Linked DNA regions of Homo sapiens: all the other regions are linked to region 4. The links come from fine-mapping of genetic effects on gene expression. A gene starts in region 4. Each other region holds a variant in brackets. All regions are shown on one strand. Distances are from middle to middle.

Region 1 (5,108 bases), 24 kb before region 4:
TTAACTTTCTCCTTTAAGAATTACGTTGTTTTTGGCTGGGCATAGTGGCTCACACTGTAATCCCAGCAATTTGGGAGTCTGAGGCAGGCAGTTTGCTTGAGCCCAGGAATTTGAGACCAGCCTGGGCAACATAGTGAGACCCCGTCTCTATAGAAAAATTTTTAAAAATTAGCTGGGCATGGTGGCACACACCTGTAGTCCTAATTACCAGGAAGGCTGAGGTGGGGGAGGGGATCAGTAGAATCCAGGAGTTTCAGGCTGCAGTGAGCGTGATCTTGCCACTATACTCCAGCCTGGGTGACAGAGCAAGACTCTGTCTGGAAAAAGAAAAATTGTGTTGTTTTCATGCAGTATTAGTACAGCTTCACATGCCCTAGATGCTAGAATCACATAGCCTGTTTACTGAAACAAGGGAAAAGTGACATATCCCATGGAACTATGTTTGTGTTAATAACAATCATAATTGCACCTTGTTAAATACTGTGATGTACCAGATCCTCTATATTAAATGTTGTATATGTACTTCTTACTTAATACAGCAAGCCTGTATACAACATTAAGCCCCAGAGGGGTTCAGCAACACAGGCTGTGAGTAAACAAGAGACACTCAACTTCATTCTTTGTGACACTCTGTTGTTTATGTGGTCTTAATCATTACACGCTTCTGCCTCCGCGAAAGCAGTCGTTGGGTTTAATTTGAACACTTTGTAGTCCAATTAACCAAAACTGGTTTGTTTGGATAACAGAGACAAAATGATCACTGGAATGAGTGATAACAGTTCAGAATGGGAATTTGTGTCGTCCGATAGTTTTGATGAGTGTTCCAATCCTCTGCAATATTTAAAAGAGAACCGAATTCTATTTCCCTAGTTCCTAGATAACTTCAATTTCAGGTTTAGTCCAAGATTAATTTTGAAAGTAAACAAATGCAGTCTTCTTGCATAAGCCTGGCTACATCTCTTTGGTTCTGTTTTTATCATGGATCCAATAATGAAATCTTTAAATAATAGAGTATGGTTTTCAGATGTTCACTTGAAATGTATTTCTGGAATTTTATTTTCTAACTTTTCATATTGGTTGCTTTTTTATCTTCAAATACATTTTCAAAGGTTATTTTGATGACCTATTTTAAGAGAAGATCCTAGAGTTGTACTTGTTCCAGATGAAATTTACCTATTGTAGAAAAAGATCTAGTTTCTTCCAGAATATCTCTCAGCTGTATGGTCTGTTCAAAACAACTCAAGAAAAAAGTCTTTCCTCAATACATACTGATGAACATTATGTACAGTATTCAATTATGCTCTGAAGTTTAATGACTCATTAGTAGATAGTAAAAATGTAGACCCTATATAGAATTTTTTTTTTCATTTTGTTTCAGCTTAGTCATTAGCCACCGAAAATCCGTTTATTTGGGTCAAGTGAACAGTATTTGATGACTGAAACTGAGAACCATAGATAGGAGTTTATAGCTACCGAGTTCAGTTTGCTGTTTTATTTAACATGTACCAATTAACTTGTACAGTTTACAGTCCCTGACAGGCTATTGTTTTATAATTGTATAGTTTTGAACTTTATGTTTGATAATTTTAAGATAGAATAAAATATGTGAGATATATGAGTTCACCTAGGAAGCATAGTATGCATATTTTCTAAATACATTTTAAAGCAAATAATAGTTTTAACAGGTATTCATTTTTCTCAAATTTTTTATTTTATTTTATTTTATTTTATTTATTTATTTTTTTGAGACAGAGTCTCGCTTTGTCACCCAGGCTGGAGTGCAGTGGTGTGATCTCGGCTCACTGCAAGCTCCGCCTCCCGGGTTCACGCCATTCTCCTGCCTCAGCCTCTCAAGTAGCTGGGACTACAGGCGCCCACAACCACGCCCGGCTAATGTTTTTGGTATTTTTCGTAGAGACGGGGTTTCACCTTGTTAGCCAGGATGGTCTTGATCTCCTGACCTCGTGATCTGCCTGCCTCGGCCTCCCAAAGTGTTGGGATTACAGGCACATTTTTCACAATTTTTTAACACTTAAGAATGACTTAACTGAATCATGCCTTTAGAAGAAACTTTCTGTTTAAAAAAAAAAAAAGACAAAACAACAAGGTTTCTATTAATGCCGGTAACTTTCCAAAGTTTACATAGAAGATTAGCCATTTCCTTCCCATTTTGACTAATGTTTAGCTTTGAAAGCTTTGAACACTTTTTAGTATTCAATAATTATGT[G/A]ATTAATACTTTAATCTTTATTGCTTATTGTATTCTGAATTTTTTCAGTTTAAACAACTATGTTTCCTTCAAACAATCTTGTTTTTAAATTTTCCTGCGCTTTTTATGTGAACATTTTTAGCACCAGGTTTTTTTAAAAACTTCACTTTCCTTCCTTTTCTGAAGGAAAAAAATTCAAATAAAAACCTGGTACTTGTTTTATTTTTTTAACTTGATATTTAAAAAATTATTAGTGGTTTCTACTTTAGAACCAACCTATGAGGAAACATTGTAAACATAATTTCAGAATATGAAGTCATTAAAATTTTTACATATTTTTTAAAGTAAAAAAATTTTAAAATACTAAAATATAACTAATGCAACTAGAAATTTAGCAAAAGATGGGGAAGAAAGCATAATATGCTGATTTTCTCATCTTTCCTATCACAATGTCAAGAGCTACTGTCTATGATTATTTCTTGGGATAGCATCATAGCAGTGTTTATAGGTTCAGTTCAGCAAAAAGACTTACAAGACAGAAATAGGCTTTAGTCTAATACAGGTTTCTCAACTTTGGTACTATATGCGCTTTGCCCAGTTTCTCCCAATGGTGACATCTTGCAAAACTATAGTACAATATTCCAAGCAGGATATTGACGTTGATACAGTTAAGACACAAAACATTTCCATCACTATAAGGATCCCTCATGTTGCCCTTTTATAAGTGCTAATTTCTCTTTAAAAGTGCTGCAAAAGAGTAAAAGTCATGCTTTCTCAAAGTGCTGGATGTTCTGCCTCGGTAACTTCTAGAATTTGCTGTTTGGAATTCTAGGCTATTGGAAACTTTGCATTAAGTGTTGGTTGATTCTAAAGTAAACCATGAAGTTTGGACTAAGTGGTTCCAGTGTGCATCTTCTGTAAGCACTTTCTCTTGCATTTGTGATTATGAGACGCCTGTTAGCTTTGTCACACAGTATCTGTAGATCTAGAAGTGAGTGGGCCAGTCAAGAAACGGACAAGCATCTACCGAGTGTATAATATCAGAAATCATGGTTTTTGGCCAGGCACAGTGACTCACGTCTGTAATCCCAACACTTTGGGAGGCCAAGATGGGCAGATCACTCGAGGCCAGGAGTTCAAGACCAGCCTGGGCAACATGGCAAAACCCTGTCTCGACTAAAAATACAAAAATTAGCTGGGCATGGTGGCACATGCCTGTAGTCCCAGCTACGTGGAAGGCTGAGGTGGGAGCATCACTTGAACCTGGGAGGCTGAGGCTACAGTGAGCTGAGATCATGCCATTGCACTCCAGTCTGGGCACAACAACAGAGCAAGACTCTGTCTCAAAAAAAAAAAAAAAAAAAAAAAAAATGAAAAGCGAAAAGAAAAAAAGAAAAGAAGAGAGAAAAGAAAGAGAAAAGGAATCATGGTTTTTGTCGTTAGGAGCTCACAGAACTGAGTGAACTGGGTTTGAATGAGAAAAAAGCACCTAAGTATTAAGGACCCTGCAGTTCAGTGTAATCATTATGTTAGGGTCAGTCAAGGCAGATCCAGATTGATGTTCATACAGTCTTGGTGTCCTTGATTTAAAGAAATAATACAAAGATTTTTTTTAAGTTTCACAAAAACAGATGACCTTGTGAACACACTACCAGGGTCCCTCCTAGGTCCTGGATTAGAGGCCTATACATGAGAGGGGCTTCGGCCTCTTGGGCTTCATGGTGAGTCCATCTCTGAGTTTGGTGGTGTGAGTTACGTTTTGCCTGCTCGGAGCTGGGCAGGGCAGTGAGGGGAGCCTTGGGATCTGAGTTGGTCATCTTCTGCCCTTCGGGGAGTTCCTAGACTCTGTGGGGCATTGCAGGGCATTTGATTGGCACATAGCAAATATCTCCTGAGTGTTTTCTGTGTACCAGGCTAAGAGCTATATGCTCATGAGTAAAATGGATATGGTCCCCCCTTTAGAGAGTCTGGAGTCTGGGCTTGGTGGTGTTTGAGAAGAGAGCAAAATCTGGAAGAAAGCAGGACCCTGTTTGACTATGAGCACTTTCCCCTCCTAGCTGAGTAACCTCAGTCCAGGACCTTTGCTTCACCTCAAAAGGAAGCCACTTACCTCTATCTCAGACAAAGCAAAAATCTGGTGCTGAGGTTTGGGATGACATTCATACATGATGCCTTCTGAGACCTGACCCATGGCGCACAATCCATGTGATTTTTCTTTTCTGCTGGGCCCAAGGTACTGCCCACCCCATGTGACAGGCCAGAGAATGATCATAGTGTCATGATGCAGAAAGCACAAGGCTGTGAGCACCAGCAGCTGAAACAATTTTACTGGTGTTCTGTCTTGTATGATCAAGAGGGAAGCTCCACGATGCACAGCCTCACCTGTGTTGCTCATCATTGTATGCTCGGCACTTAAGATAGGGCCTGGTATGTAGGTAGCACTCAGTATCTGTTGAATGAGTGAATGAAAGAAACATATTTGGTGATCTCTGTTTGTAACAGTTTAACATGCTCATTATAGGTGTATTTCACTGACACACTTCAGGCTCCTTTTACTTGGATATTGCTATCTGTGTTTGTTTTTCTCAACCTCAGCACTATTGATGTCTTGGGCCAGATAATTCTTTGTCGTAGGGGTTGTCCTGTGCATTGTAAAATGTTTAGCAGCATCCTTGGCCTCTACCCACTAGACGCCTAGAGCATCCCCCTCCCTGCCCTTAGTTGTGACAAATGAAGACATTTGCAGACATTGCCAAATGTCCCCTGGGGACACAATCGTCCCTAGTGGAGAATCACTGGCCCATGCAGCAGTTTTAGGCTTGGCAGAAAGGAAACTTATGGTCTCAGGGTCAGAATGGGCTATAAAGGTCGTTGATGATCACTTCTCATGCTATCCACTTAT
Region 2 (5,158 bases), 52 kb before region 4:
TAAATAATAGTCTCCACCTCATAGGATTGTTGAGAGAGTAAATAGCTAATATAGCTGAAGGGCTTGGCATATGTTTTGACACTGTGCTGAAGAAGGCATTGGCTACCATTACTATTATTATTCGAAGAAGACATTTTTAGTTTCATCTCCTACATAATTTTGCAGCCCACTAGGTAGTATATTTCTGGCTGTAAGGCTTGGAAAAACCCATCCTAAATGACATAAAAAATAAGGTGGCTGGGCATGGTGGCTCAAGCCTATAATCACAGTACTTTGGGAGACCGAGGCAGGTGGGTGGCTTCAATTCAGGAGTTGGAGACCAGCCTAGGCAACATAGTGAAATCCTATCTGTTAAAAAAGTACAAAAATTAGCCAGGTGTAGTGGCGCATGCCTGTAGTCCCAGCTACATGAGGGGCTGAGACAGGAGGCTTATTTCAGCCTGGGAGGTTGAGGCTTCAGTGAGCCCTCTTGCTGCCACTACACTCTAGCCTAGGCAACAAAATGAGACCCTGTCTTAATAATAATAATAATAATAATAATAATAATAATAATAATAATAATAATGAAATGGCTGGGCTCAGTGGCTCATGCCTATAATCCCAGCACTTTTGGAGGCCGAGGAGGGAGGGTTGCTTGAGGCCAGGAGTTTGAGACCAGCATGGGCAACATGGTGAAACCCCATCTCTATAAAACACTTCAAAAATTAGCCAGACGTGGTGGCACACGTCTGTAGTCCCAGCTACTCAGGAGGCTAAGGTGGGAGGATCACTTGATCCTGGGAGGTCAAGGCTGCAGTGAGCCCAGATCACACGACTGCACTCCAGCCTGGGCAACAGAGCAAGACCTTGTCTCAAAAATAAATAAATAAAAAATAAGACAGTAAGGAAATGTATTATCTTACCTAACTGGAAGGAGTGGCACCATCAGTAGCTGAAAGATGTCGTCAGATAACTGACTCTCTCCGTCTTTCTCATGATGTTGTAAGCCTCATTTCCAAGTGCCTCATAATAACAAGACAGTTGTCAGTGGCAACTGGAGCTACATACTTCTTTGTTCTCAACTACCTGGTCAAAAATGGAAAAACCACATCTCCAAGTGTGTAATATAAATGTTTCCTTCATTTTGATTGAACCAGTCCTAGTCACAGGACCAATGAGTCATGCAGGCAGGTGATGGGGGAATGGCACATGCCAATAGCCTCCTTAAGATTCACTCCTGGCCTGGCGCGGTGGCTCACGCCTGTAATCTCAGCACTTTGGGAGGCCGAGGTGGGCAGATCACGAGGTCAGGACATCGAGACCATCCTGGCCAACATGGTGAAACCCCGTCTCACTAAAAATACAAAAAATTAGCCGGGCATGGTGGTGGGTGCCTATAGTCCCAGCTACTTGGGAGGCTGAGGCAGGAGAATTGCTTGAACCGGGGAGGCAGAGGTTGCAGTGAGCCGAGATTGTGCCGCTGCACTCCAGCCTGGCGACAGAGTGAAACTCTGTCTCAAAAAAAAAAAAAAAGATTTACTTCTAGAGTCTCGGGTCACATTCTTCTAAGCTATACTTGGTCAGAATCGGAGTTGTGTTAGGAAGAAAGACACAAGTGAATGGATGCGGGGCAATCAGTGTTCACCAATGTACTATTGCTCTCAGAAAATATGGAGATGCCTCTTTTTTCATATTTTAAAAAACTTCTCAATTTTTAATTTTTTTTAAGTTTTAAATTTTTGGAAATAATTGTTTTGTTTTGTTAGTTTTTAGAAAAAGGATCTCACTCTGTTGCCCAGGCAAGAGTGCTGTGGCATGATGACAGCTTACTGCAGTCTCCGACTTCTGGGCTCAAACAGTCCTTCCGCCTCAGCTTCACAAAGTGCTGGGATTACAGGCATGAGAGAGGATGAATTCTAACACATTACATTGTGGTTAGAAACTATGTTACCAGATATAAGAAATAAAATAAAATTACATCTTCATATGTATATTTTATATATTTATAGCTAGCATTTATTGAGTGATTGCTTTGTGCCAGATCTGGCTTTGTGCCAGATAGTCACTCAGATACTATTAAGTGATTGCTTTGTGCCAGATACTACCCATCATTTCCATCAGCCTTCACAAATACCCTTATTTATTTCCTCAGAAAATACTTATGAAGCCCCTACCATACTTCAGGCACTGTCTTGTCACTGGGAATATAGCAACAGCAGGAAAAGACCAAGACCCAGTCCCTCATGGAAACTACATTCGAGAAATAGGAAACTGTGGCTGAGAGGGATTGAGTGAATTGCCCAAAGTTACACAGCTTGAATGTAGCAGAGTCGAGATTTGAACTTCAGAAGTCTAATCTAACTCCAAAGTCAAGAATGGGTGTATTAGTCTGTTCTTGCACTACTATAAAGAAATACCTGAGACTGGGTAATTTATAAAGAAAAGAGGTTTAATTGGTTCATGATTCCTCAGGCTTTACAGGAAGCATACTGGCTTCTGCTTTTGGGGTGGCCTCAG[G/A]AAATGTACAATCATGGCAGAATGTGAAGGGGAAGCAGGCACATGTTACATGGCCACCCCAGGAGGAAGAGAGAAATGGGGGAGGTGCCACACAGCTTTAAACAACCAGATCTTGTGAGAACTCACTCGCTATACTGTACCAAGGGGGGATGGTACTAAACCATTCATGAGAAACCCGCCCTCATGATCCAATCACCTCCCGCAAGTCCCACCTCCAGCATTGGGGGTTGTAATAATTCCAGTTCTCAGCCAATGGCAGGCTTCCTTCTTTCAAGCCTTGACTTTTCAGGGGAGAGCTCTCTGGGGCCTGGAGGAGGCATTGCTCTAGGGGTCAGGCACCATGCCCCACAGTGGCATCACTGCTTGAGAGCACCCAGAACAATGAAAGGCAGCCTGTGAGCCAGGGGAGGGTCCACTCAAACCAAGGGTGTATGGAGCAAACTGCGTAAGCATTGAGGCCCCAGGAGAGATTTGCACAGGAGATGCAGGTGCCCAGTATGATCAATCCCTCTCCCCAGACCTCCAGCCATCATTTGCAATAACCGAAGTTAACATTACCTGATGCTTTGCTTCTGGGGAACCAGTGTGCACAACCTCCTTAAAAAAAATAAGGGTTTGGCTGGGCTTGGTGGCTCACACCCATAATCCCAGCACTTTGGGAGGCCAAGGCAGGTGAATCACCTGAGGTAAGGAGTTCGAGACCAGCCTGGCCAACATGGCAAAACCTCATCTCTACAAAAAATACAAAAATCAGCCAGGTGTGGTGCTGCACACCTGTAATCCCAGCTACTCGGGAGGCTGAGGCAGGAGAATTGCTTGAAACTGGGAGATGGAGGTTGCAGTGAGCCGAGATTATGCCAATGCACTCTAGCCTGGGCAACAAGAGTGAAACTGCGTCTCCAAAAAAAAAAAAAAGAAAAGAAAAGAAAAAAAGGAAAAAAAACGGTTTGTGGCATGTAGTGGGGCGAGACTTTCAGATTTCTGAGCAGGAACCTAAGCTGATAGAAGAATTGTACACACTAAAAATGCCTGGTCCCTGTCATATTGTAGTGATCTGTGACCTTAAATTTAAGTATTCAACTTTCACCAGGTTATTTTGAATTTGAGTTCTGCTAGATAGAATCAAACCTATGTAAGGCTGGGCACGGCAGCTCGCGCCTGTAAATCCCAGCACTTTGGGAGGCCAAGACAGGTGGATCATTGAGGTCAGGAGTTTGAGACGAGGCTGACCAACATGGTGAAACCCTGTCTCTACTAAAAATATTAAAAAATTAGCCAGGCATGGTGGTGCACGCCTGTAATCCCAGCTACTCAGGAGACTGAGGTAGGAGAATTGCTTGAACCCAGGAGATGGAGATTGTAATGAGCCAAGATCACTCCACTGCACCCCAGCCTGGGCGTCAGGGGGAGACTCTGTCTTATAAAAAAATAAAAAGAATCAAACCTATGTTACTAATTGTTACTGAATCATCTGAATTTGACTGGCTTCAAAAGTGTCTTTCCAACAGGACTGTTTGTTTAATTGGGTTTAATATTATGCATTTTTCAACCAGTCTTGAAGAAGTTTTCAAACTCCCACTATGTGTCAGGTGCTATGCTAGGCACTGGGTGAATTAAAAAGGCATAGTCTGGTCCCCGGAAGCAGACTCAGAGATAAAGATTTTTGTGAAAATGATTTATGAAGGCAGGGTCTCCTGGGAACACTGGGCAAAGTAAGAGTAGGGGAACACGGCAAAGCAAGAGGAAGAAGCCCACCAGAGTGGCGATCTCAAACCAAAGGCCAGACTCCACCTGATCCTGCAGGGAGCTCTGGAGAGTCAACTGCATCTAAGGGTTTTTCCTGAGTCAGAATAAAGGAGCTGGGCTTTCATTCTGCTGGGTTAGCAGGTCCTTGGCTACTGGCTACCCCAAGCAGAAAAAAGCACTCCGGCATTTCTGGCCCTCTGCACAAGCAGAGCAGGGCCTCTCTGGGAGCCTGAGAGCAGTTCTGTTGCAGGTCCCACTGACATAGCAAAAGAACAATGCAGCCAAAGTAGGAGAGCATGGAAATGGTAAAGGAATGTGAGGGCTTCTGAGCTGAGCATCAGCAGTGGCTGCTACAAGGTCCCTAAAAGATGGTAATAGTCAGGGGCTAGGCACTCACGCCTGTAATCCTAGCACTTTGGGAGGCCGAGGCAGGTGGGTCACTTGAGGTCAGGAGTTTGAGACCAGCCTGGCCAACATGGTGAAACCCCATCTCTACTAAAAATACAAAAAAAGTAGCTGGGCATGATGGCTGATGCCTGTTATCCCAGCTACTTAGGAGGCTGAGGGATGAGAATCGTTTGAACCTAGGAGGTGGAGGTCGCAGTGAGCTGAGATCACACCACAGCACTCCAGCCTGGGTGACAGAGGGAGACTCTGCCTTTAAATAATAATAATAATAATGTTTTACCAGCTATCTGGGCATCCCTTCTCCCAGTCAGCTTGACACATAAAATTAACCATTATATCTGCCATTATCAAATGCAATAAATGCAGCATAGGAAATAAATAAAGTGCAATTTTGTAAGTACCTATTTGGGAAGAGGCAGACATTCTCAACCTGCAAGCACTCTAACCTTTCCCCTTCCCCTGACTCCCCAACTAGACATAGGCCCCGTGCTGGTGATGGAGCAGCCAT
Region 3 (5,158 bases), 42 kb before region 4:
TAGCCACATTGCAAGTGCTCCACAGCCACTTGTGACTAGCCGTACTGCTAGGGACTACATGGATATGGAGTATTTCCACCATTGCAGAAAGTTCTATTGAGCTGTACTGTGCTATGCTGGGGAGTAATTAAAACCAGAACCTAAAAAGCACAGAGCCCTTCATATGAGGGGTGGAGAGGAGAGGCATCTCTGGGCAAGGCTTCCTGGCTGTCTCCCAAGAGGCCTCACAAGGTGGCTTCACCTTGACCCAGTGACGATAATCCAGGGTCTCTCTCAGCCTTGCAGACTCAGAGCCTGACTCGTCAGCACCAGAGGTCTCCTCCATTTGGGTCATGAATCAGAATGTCAATCTATTGATTTACCGTGAAAACCCTTACTACTTTCACTGCCCAAGGATTGGCATTCAGGCCGCTGGCTCCCGTGACTTCTCCCCACTGGCAAGGCCACCAGAAGTCCATGTATAATCAAACGGCTGCAGTGAGTCAGAGCCAGGCCAATGGCAGTGGTCTGTGTGTTCTGAATGTGCTATTGCCCAGCATCAAGAGGGACCTGCCTGTCCCGGGAGCCAGACAGGCACATCCTGGGCTGGAGTTCCACTGGCCTGATGGTGGTCAGCATTGCCAAGTTGTACTCCTGGGACTTCCCTTTTTTCTTTCTTCCCTACATCCCTTTTTCAATTTTAAAATAATTTTAAACTCACAAAACATTGCAAAAATTATACAAAGAGTTCCTGAGTACCTTTCCCATAGTTTCCACTACAACAGCATCTTACATAACTAGAGTACATTGTCAAAACCAGGACATTGACGTTAGCACAATACCCTTTTCCTCTGATAACGGCAAATGTGTTAATGGGTTCTTACACTGTGTCAGACATATTTTTGTTTCATTCTCACAACAATCCTACACTGTAGGTATTATTATTATTCACTCTATTTTATTGAGAAGAAGACTGGAGCTCTGAGAAATTAAATATCTTTCCTAAGGCTAGATAGACCGTAGATGGCAGAGCTGGGATTGGACTCTACCAAATCTGACTCCAGAGTAGCACTCTCTAAATATGAATGGATGGGAAAGACTTTAACAAGCAGACCTCAAACGCCAGACCAAGACGCTTTTCTGCCTGTTTGTATTTGCGGCCTATGTCTCCCGGATGATTCAGTGTGTGTTAAACCTGCACTTTCCCTGGGAAGGGGAAGGGGGAATAATGGGCTACAACCCCCAAATTCTGATGATGCATTGCTAAAGCCAAAATTTGCTCAAATGCTTATTAAATTTATCTTAATGTTTGAGAAAGATAAAAATAGTGCTCAAAATATAAAGACTACTGCAGGGTAGTTGTACATTTTATACTTCAAGAGCTCACTTGATGTCATGGCTTATTATAATTAGAGTAAACTTTCAATAATCAGTCACGGAGAACCATGAATTCTCTTCAGGAGGGGTGTAGACTTAATGAGCTGAGCTGCCAGTTTAGGAAATCAGGTTTAGACTTTGAATGTGGTAATGGTGAAATTGCTGCTCTAAAAAGAACCATCTGGTAGCAACTTGCATCGTACAGAGCAGCTACTGCACTATTCTCACAGCACCTATTGCACAGTGCCTGCAGGCACATAGCAGTGATAGGCGGTATATCTCTGGTGAATTAAATTGCCTGTGTTCTTCCTTCACAGCTCCTCCTCTCCTACATGTGAAAGAACCACAAATGAAAGGAAATCAGAGAGAGTTGGTTTTGTTTTTGGTTCAGTTTTGTTGTTGTTGTTGTTGTTTTTGAGACAGAGTCTTGCTCTGTTGCCCATGCTGGAGTGCAACGGTGCCATCTCAGCTCACTGCAACCTACATTTCCCAGGTTCAAGTGATTCTCCTGCCTCAGCCCCCGAAGTAGCTGGGATTACAGGCACCCACCACCATGCCTGGCTAATTTTCATATTTTTTGTAGAGACGGGGTTTCGCCATGTTGGCCAGGCTGGTCTCGAACTCCTGGCCTCAAGTGATCTGCCCGCCTCGGCCTCCCAAAGTGCTGGGATTACAGAGGTGAGCCACTGCGCCTGGCCAGGGAGTGTTTTGTTGGACAGGACTCTTATCAAAACTTGGATGTTCCACCCCAAAAATAAAAAGTTTGAAATCTACTGGCTCACACAAACTAGATGTAAAAGAGATCAATTACAAATCAGACTAACAATTGATTCATTTTAAAATAACTGATTAACCGGAATCGGTTGATGCCGAGATAGGATTTGGGGGTTTACATCAGCCTTTAGGAAAATCATAACTTACAGTCAAGGCTGAGTTCTGGAACCTCATTCTCTCAGCAAGGAAAACAGTTCTATCTGAAGCACCCCAGTAAACTCACCTCCTGACCACTCTCCCTCTCTCTACTCCTCCACCTCTAGCTATTACGATGGGGGCCTATTAAACAGACAAACACATAAGAAAATGGAAGGGAGAATGCTGTAACAAGATCATGAAAGCACAGTTACCATGGATCATTGGCTAGGGCTTGGAAATACTTTCATTATGGCGAATTGCATCCATCAGCTCGAAAACATTTTGGAAGTAAACAAATGAAAAGAGTTAGCAATCTGCCACTTAGGATTCTCTAGGTGAAGTCTTATCCTACCAAAATTAATTTTCCAGTCCCCTCCCGCTCAAACCTGCGCTATCCTTTTTGCTAATTCGTGAGCCAAAGGTTGATAATACTTACGTATACATTTAGCAAACCCAAACTCTGCCAAACTGTGTGAAAAAAATAAATGACTTCAGTGGATAGAGATCCAGGATGCAACCACACACTCCATGGCCACTTCTAACTGTGAGGACAGTGGAACAGGTGATCACAATGACTTGATATATATGGAAGAGACCTTCCTAAAAGTAGTCTCCTGTGTTTTGGAAAGTGTGTTTATAACTGTTTTGTAGAGGGGTCCCCACACCTCAAAGAGGAGCCAGTATGGTTGGGAAAAACTAGAACTTCGAGGCAGGAGACCAGTGGCCTATTTCCTGCTCTGTCACCTGGTTCCT[A/G]TGAGATTAAATCTTTCGGATTATCAGTTTCCTCATTTGTAAAGCAAGTTAGATGAATTAGATTATCCCATCATTTTCTGTATTTGATTAATGAGTTCATTCAAGATTGGCTACACATTCAAAATGTAACCAATTCCTCTAAATTCCTCTACATGAGTGGGTTTTTTGTTAAGGCTTGGATGTGGTCAAGATAAGGGATTGAGATTTGCCTAGCCTTTTATCCCTGGCACATGCAAAAAGTGCTCTGTAACCAAATATTTTGGAAATGCTGAGTTGTACCAAGTTGGTACAACTAGTTTCCTTTTGCAGAACCTCTCGGGGTCTTTAATGTGCTAATACAAATTATGGCTCCTAAGAGGTCTCTATCTAATCATAAAAAAATCACAATTTTTCTAAGAGGACACACTCCCTGGCAGATGCTGTACTAGAGTCCTCAGTCTCCAGTGTTAGGCTCACTCTAATTGATCTTGCCACCTAAAAAAGCAGGGAGGATTCCTTTGATAGACAACTCACCTTATGAGAGCAAAGGCACCCAGTCCCCACTTAGAACGCTGACAAATGAACCTGCAGAGCAGAAACACGGATGGCCCACTTTCTTACCACTCACAAAAATAGTATCTCTTCTGAACTTCTTCGGGGGATTCCTCTGAGGGTAAACATACCTCCAGACAAAAGGTCACATGTGTAGAATTGTACCTGTTCTCTGCCATTTTGTTTTTAAATCTTGATCTCTGAGTTGTAAAAAGAGACAGAGAAGAAAGAGAGAGAAAGCAACAGAGAGAAAGAGGTGAGAGGGAGGGAAACAGGCAGGTTTTAAGATAAGTTTGAGGAAAATTCACATCATAGTCATTGTTTCTTCCTTTTGGTTATTGGCTATCTAAATTTTTTATGGCAATATTTAAGTAAAGCATATAAATTCAAGGAGAAGCTGTAATAGTTAAGTATTTGGCATAAGACCTAACTGGGTGGAAACCCAGCTCTACTATTTCGAAGTTACTGTGATTCTGTATGACACAGTTAATCTCTGCAAATCTTACTTCCCCCTTTGTAAAATAGGAATTGTGGTGGTAGCTACCCCATAGGGTAACTGGAGGTATTATATAAGATGTATTGAGATTTATTGAGTACTTACCATATGCAGTGCATAGAAAGAGGCAGCCTTTACATTTAGAAATGGAGATTTTTGTAATTGGTTTGTGCCTATAAATTCCTATACCCAGATGTCTTATTATTTCTTCCAAGTCCTTTCCCTCAGGAAAAAAAAATATAGACAGATAGATAGATAGATACATAGATAGATAGATAGATAGATAGATAGATAGATAGATAGACAGACAGACATATATACATATATATATACACACACAATTCAAATTTAGGGGAGAAAAAAATTAGTAAATAAAATTTGTGTGGGCTAGCTAATAAATGTTGACCTAAAATAATAAAGAAGTAATTACCTAGCCCTGGTTTTTCCTCTTAAGAAAATTCTTTTCTTTTTTTTTTTTGGACAGAGTCTCATCTGTCGCCCAGGCTGGAGTGCAGTGGCAAGATCTCCACTCACTGCAACCTTTGCCTCCCAGGTTCAAGCGATTTTCCTACCTCAGCCTCCCAAGTAGCTGGGATTACAGGCACCTGCCACCACACTCGGCTAATTTTCTTCTGTTTTTAGTAGAGACAGGGCTTCACCATGTTGGCCGAGCTGGTTTCAAACTCCTAACCTCAGGTGATCCACCCGCCTTGGCCTCCCAAAGTGCTGGGATTACAGGTGTGAGCCACCGCACCCGGCCAAGAAAGTTATTTTCTGCATGAGACTTTCTCTCTGGAAAGTTAACAAATATGCTACCGATTTGCATAACAATCTCTTCCTTTTAATGAAGTACATGATACATAGCCTTAAGGCTCACCTTCAATGCTAAAAATAGATATTAAATACAGTCAACATTGTAATGAATAAAACCTAAATCTTTTAGAACCAAATGTTCATCCTGATCCCTCATATTATTTCAAACGCATTTTATACTAATTTTTTTTTAAAAAGTCTTTCTCTTGAATTAATATTTCAACTATTTAAAAATAGGTAAACTTTATTTTACATTATCACTTGAATAGACCAAATAATTGTTAGTGCCTCCATAGA
Region 4 (5,158 bases):
ATTTAAATTATAGTTCTCATTATTAATTTAAAACAACCATCAGTAGAACAGCACAGCTTAACCTAGCAAACATTTTAAGGAAATGCTTTGTTTCCTAGAAGGAGGATATCATTATATTCCATTCATTTATACCATAAACAACAGAAGAACAATTTTCAAAGTGGAAATTAGTTTCATAAGACAGAATAAAACTGGGCTTCTCAAAGCACAAGCCATTTCCATAAAATTAATTTTTTATTGGCAAAAAATACTTAAAACAATTTTGATGTAGTACTCTGCTTCTCAGAGCCCTCCCAATCCTCGAACCACAATCTATACACACGAACACATGCAATACTGTATTTTTCTCCACATCATTACTAACCAAAACACTTTACTCTTTTAAAACTTACAACTTGACAGAAATGTTTCCATTCAAGATTGCTATAATACAGAGAGCAGTTGTCACTGACGTGGTTTTTAGCAGCAGAAAGTAAACCGGGAACCAAATCTTACTTGTTACTTACTGCTTTAAAAAAATGACTGCCTTGCTACTGATCTCCATCTCTGCTCTTTAAGTTCAATATCAACACTGAGACTTTCAAAGAACCAGCGCAGCACAAGGACCCTGCAGCCGGCAATTCAGAGGGCATTTCGGACAACTTCCCCCCACCCCCCACTTTCTCCTGCTTCCAACAGAAGATCCTCAAGAAATCTAACTTGTGAAGAAGTCCCCCTAGGTTCCTCTACTTCACTGCAAAATGTAATGCCACTTGAGGTTGTCAAAAATAGCTTCTGTAGAAAACTGGCCATGGTCTTTAGGAAACGTTGCATGAAGAAAATTAGTACAGCCTTTATAGAAAAAGAAAAAAAGGAACCACACATGGAATAAAAGACGTCAGTACCGCTACAAAAAGACTGCAGGGCCTATTGTCAGGAAGAAAGTCGAGTTAGGAGGACGAATGTGCGGAGCTGGAGTGGGCTGAGCATCCTACTCCTCACCCACCCCACCCCCAAAGGAGTCAGTACAATCCAAGTGTCTGTCCACTTCGAGTCATTTTGAAGGCAGCTTAGAAAATTAAACAGGGGCCAGAAGGAAAAGATACAACGTCACCGTCCGAGCCAAAGGGAAAGGCTGGGTTGGGGGTCTATGTGGCGGGGCCTCCCTCATAAACCAATGCCTTTCAGGTCGCAGGGATGGGTCGCCTGGGTGGTCCGGGGGCTCTGGCAGCAGGGGAACTGGGCCCTGAAGCAGTCCCTCAGCTCCCTGTTGAAGAGGAAGCACACGACGGGGTTGATGCCGGCCTGCGCGAAGGTCAGCCACACGGAGGCCGTCAGGTAGGCCTGGGGGACGGCGCCGGGCCGCACCAGGACCCGCAGGTAGCTGGCCACGACGTAGGGCCCCCAGAGGAGCAGGAAGAGCAGCGTGACGGCGTAGAACATCTTGCACAGCCTCTTCTCCGTCTTGAATTCTTCCAGCACGAGGAGGCGGCGCGCGCCGCGGCCCGGCCCTGCGGGCCGGATGCCCACAAGCGCGGGCGGCGTGGGCCCGCGGCCGAAGCCCGCCGTCCAGTTGGCGGCCGCCTGGCCGGTGGCGCCCGGGCCGTGGAAGGTCCAGTCGTGGCTGACGGCGGGCACCAGGCGCGCGGGCCGCATCTTGCGGCGGTCGTGGATGAAGAAGAGCAGGCGGAGGTAGACGAGGTGCGTGGCGCCCACCACCACGGCCAGCAGCAGCAGGAAGCCCAGCGCGCCGGGGGCGCCGTCGGGCCGCTGCTCCAGGGCGCACGGCGCGTCCTCGTCGTCGCCACCGCCGTCCAGCACTGGCGGGAAGGCCGCGGCCAGCGCCAGCGCCCAGGCGGCGCACACCAGCATGGCGGCGCACGGCCAGCCGGCCAGGCGCTCTGCATAGAAGCGGTGGTGCGCGATGGCCAGGTAGCGGGTGACGCCCACGCCCAGCAGCAGGAAGGCGGCGTGGAAGCAGAAGAGCGCGGCCAGGAAGGCGAGCAGCTTGCAGCCCAGCGCGCCCGGCGGCGCCCCCGCCGCGGCCGCCGCACGCCGCGCCGCCAGCATGACGGCCGGGAGGCAGGCGAGCGCGCGCAGCCCGTCGGCCAGGCACAGGTCGAGCAGCAGGTAGTACGGGGCGCGGTGCAGGCTGCGCTCCCGCACGATCAGCAGCGCGAACAGCACGTTGCCCGCTAGGCTCACGCACAGCAGCAGGCTGAGCGTGGCCAGCTTGAGGCCCAGGGCGGCCGCCTCGCCGCCGCCGCTGCCACCCGGCTCGCTCGCGTTCGCCATCGCGGCCTCACCAGGCCGTGCGCTCCGCCCCGGGGCCGTCCCCTGCCTCGCCGCTCCCGCAGGCCGCCCGGCCCGAGCTCCGCCGCTCCGCCGGCCCTGGGCGAGCTCCCCGTCCTGCGGGGCTCAGCCCGCTCCCGGCCGGCCCCTCCTGGGCTCCCCGAGCCGCCGCTGTGCCGCCGCCGCCATCTCAGGAATGGTGCGCGCAGGAGGAGGCGGCCACTCCCTGCGCCCTAGGCGCCGCGGGCTTCACTGCGGACAGGGCCTCGCCACCGTCCGCAGCCCCCCGCATCCTCCTCCGTCTCCTCCTACTCCTCCGCTGCTGCCGCCGCGCCTCTTGGCTCTGCCCCCCGCCGGGCCCGCCGCCGCCGCTGCCGCCGCTGCCGCCGCCGCCGCCGCCGCCGCGGAGCCCCCTCCCCTCCGCCGGAGCGCGCAGCGCGGCCGCCGCCGCCAGCCCCGCCGAGGCATCCCGCACCGCCTGGGCCCGGCTGGGCTGGGGGCGCCTCCGCAGCAGCCGCGGGGTCGGGAGGCGGCCGGGAGGGAGGCAGGGCCCAGGACGCAAGGTGGCGACAAGTCGCGTTTGGCCCCAGGTAACGGGGGTCCGGCGGCGGCGCCCGCGCTGGGGTCACGGTGGCCGTGCGCGGGGGAGGTTGCCTGGGCTGGCAGGGTCGGGAGGCCTCAGAGGGGACAGGAATATCTGGAATGAGCCTTCTGCCCGAAAGCTGGGAGTAATTTACGATAGTAATAGTCATCGTAATCCTAAAACCGCTGATACTCAGGTGCGCACTGATGTGGGTGGCAGTGTGCTGGGGAGCTTGGCAAGCATTATCTCCCTCAACAGTAATCACGAAGTTGTTGCCATCCTTAATCCCACTTTATACCTCAGGAAGCAGAGGCTTGGAGGTCAAGGGAGTTGAGAGCCGGGAAGTAGCGGAGCTGGGATTCAAATTTCGCTTGGTCTGATTTCCAGTGCTGGACTCACAGCGACTCCGCAGCATCCCCTGCTCGCTAACTCATCCGTGATCCCGGTGAAGGACCTATATCAGGGAAAAGAAATGCAGCATTTCATCTTTAAGTGACTTGGAAGGTGAACCCTATGCCACCTTCCTCCCAGGATATCTATTTTCTGGGTAAGCCTGAAAGGGCAGCCCCTGTTATGATTCTCAGACACACCGCATTTGTCTCGCAGGACCTTGCATGTGCTGGTACCTCTGCCTGGACCAGCCCCACAACAGGCTCCCTCTCCGTAGGGCCTCCTTCTAACCCGTCTGTTTTACTCTGTATCCCTGCCCTCTAGTCATTTCCTTCTTAGCACTTATAATTTGTCATTATATACTTTCATTTCTTTTTAAAAATCATGCTCTTCTAACTAGGCTCTAAGCTCTTTGAAGGCAAGGGATCATGCCTGGTTTTTGGTACCACTGCATCCCCAGTGCTTAGCATGGTAAAGCCAGAATTAAGCAACGCATTGTTTCTCACCCACACTCATTTGTTTTTTCTTCTGTGCAGAAAATTATTTGTTGCCTACTGATTACATGCAAGGCAGGCACCTTGATGGGCATTTTCAGGATAGTGCAAGATCATAGAGGGCCTTAATGATCAGGCTAAGAAGTCGAAACTTTAGTCTGCAGGCAGTCAGGAGCCCTTGAAATCTTTTGAGAAGGGGAGCGACATGACTAGGTGTGCTCCAGGAACATTATTCTGGCAGCAGTGTTGAGGAGGGATGACAGAGCAGAGCCGGTAAACCTAGTCCAGAGCCTCAAACTTCACTATGTGCAGAAATCACTGGGGACCCTGTTAAAATGAAGATTCTGATTTAGTAGTTCTGGAATGGGGCCGGAGGTTCTGCATTTCTAACAAGCTCCGGGGTGAGACTAATGCTGTTGGTCTGCTGACCTTACTTTGAATAGTAAGGCCCTTGGGGACAGTTTGGATATTTTTTTAAAAATCTAAGTGATTTTTCAAGAAAATCAACTATTGAGCACCTGACTTGGGACTCCTAAGTGGCCAGCAGCAAGTGGCTGACCAGGCACATCTGTAAATGTATGTTGATAGAAAATAGATTTTGGAGGGTGTATGGGTTAGGAATTGCAGTTTGATACTAGTAGCAAAAAACGTGTACATGAGTTTATTTTCCTCGTGAAAGAAGAAGTTTGGAGGTCAGTAGTTGCTGACATTGATTTATTGGCTCAAGGACTGAATCTCTGAAAATCTTTTAGCCCTTCCCTCATGATCACAGTAGGCTGCCGACGCCCCAGCCATCATTTCTTCATTCCAGGCAGAAAGAAGAAAAGGGAAAAGAGCAGCAATATTCCAGCCATCTAAGTAGGAAGAGCTTTCTAGAAGCCCTACATTATAAACAAACACTTAAACATATCATTGGCTATCAATTGAGAGTGAGCACTTGAGCAAGGGAGGGTAGGAAATGGTTTCTTATTTCTTTGTTTAAAGTTAGACCCATGGCTGTAGAGAATTCGATCCTGCCTTGCTGTGGCCCTTAGCGCTTGGGCTGCCTCTGCCCAGAGGAGGGAATGCCTTCTTAATAACCCACACAAATTCACCAACTCTGGTTGCTTTATGGTAATACTAATGGCAGCCACCTTTTACTGAGCACTTGCCGTATGCCAAGCATTGTGCTAAATTCTCGACATGTGTTATTTAATGTAATCATTGTAATGGCCAGATGTGGTATGTGCTGTTACTGTCTTCATTTTGCAGAGGAGGCAGAAGGGTTAATTTGTTCACGCTTTCACCACTTACACTTACTTTACACTTACTTTCAAGTAAGTGTAAGAGCTGGAAGTCTGACTTTATTTATTTTGAAACAGGGTCTCACTCTGTCACCTAGGCTGGAGTCAGTGGCATCATCATGGCTCACTGCAGCCTC

Evidence for each region.
Region 1: its variant is fine-mapped to the expression of GPR27 in whole blood (TOPMed, PIP above 0.99).
Region 2: its variant is fine-mapped to the expression of GPR27 in whole blood (TOPMed, PIP above 0.99). The same link has a PIP of 0.9 or more in blood mononuclear cells.
Region 3: its variant is fine-mapped to the expression of GPR27 in whole blood (TOPMed, PIP 0.96).

What each region holds. Positions count from the first base shown.
Region 1 is chr3:71,774,834-71,779,941 of GRCh38, reverse strand. All of the region lies in intron 2 of PROK2 (prokineticin 2), which reads left to right. Among named protein-coding and RNA genes, the nearest start is that of PROK2, 7.8 kb to the left of the region's middle. The variant G/A (reference allele first, on the strand shown) is at 2,228.
Region 2 is chr3:71,802,775-71,807,932 of GRCh38, reverse strand. No RefSeq gene overlaps it. Among named protein-coding and RNA genes, the nearest start is that of PROK2, 20 kb to the right of the region's middle. The variant G/A (reference allele first, on the strand shown) is at 2,497.
Region 3 is chr3:71,792,942-71,798,099 of GRCh38, reverse strand. No RefSeq gene overlaps it. Among named protein-coding and RNA genes, the nearest start is that of PROK2, 10 kb to the right of the region's middle. The variant A/G (reference allele first, on the strand shown) is at 3,022.
Region 4 is chr3:71,751,166-71,756,323 of GRCh38, reverse strand. It overlaps GPR27 (G protein-coupled receptor 27), which reads right to left and starts at 2,469. Exons shown (of 1, transcript NM_018971.3): 1 at 1-2,469. The coding sequence starts at 2,274. The coding sequence ends at 1,147. It also overlaps a transcript of EIF4E3 not described here.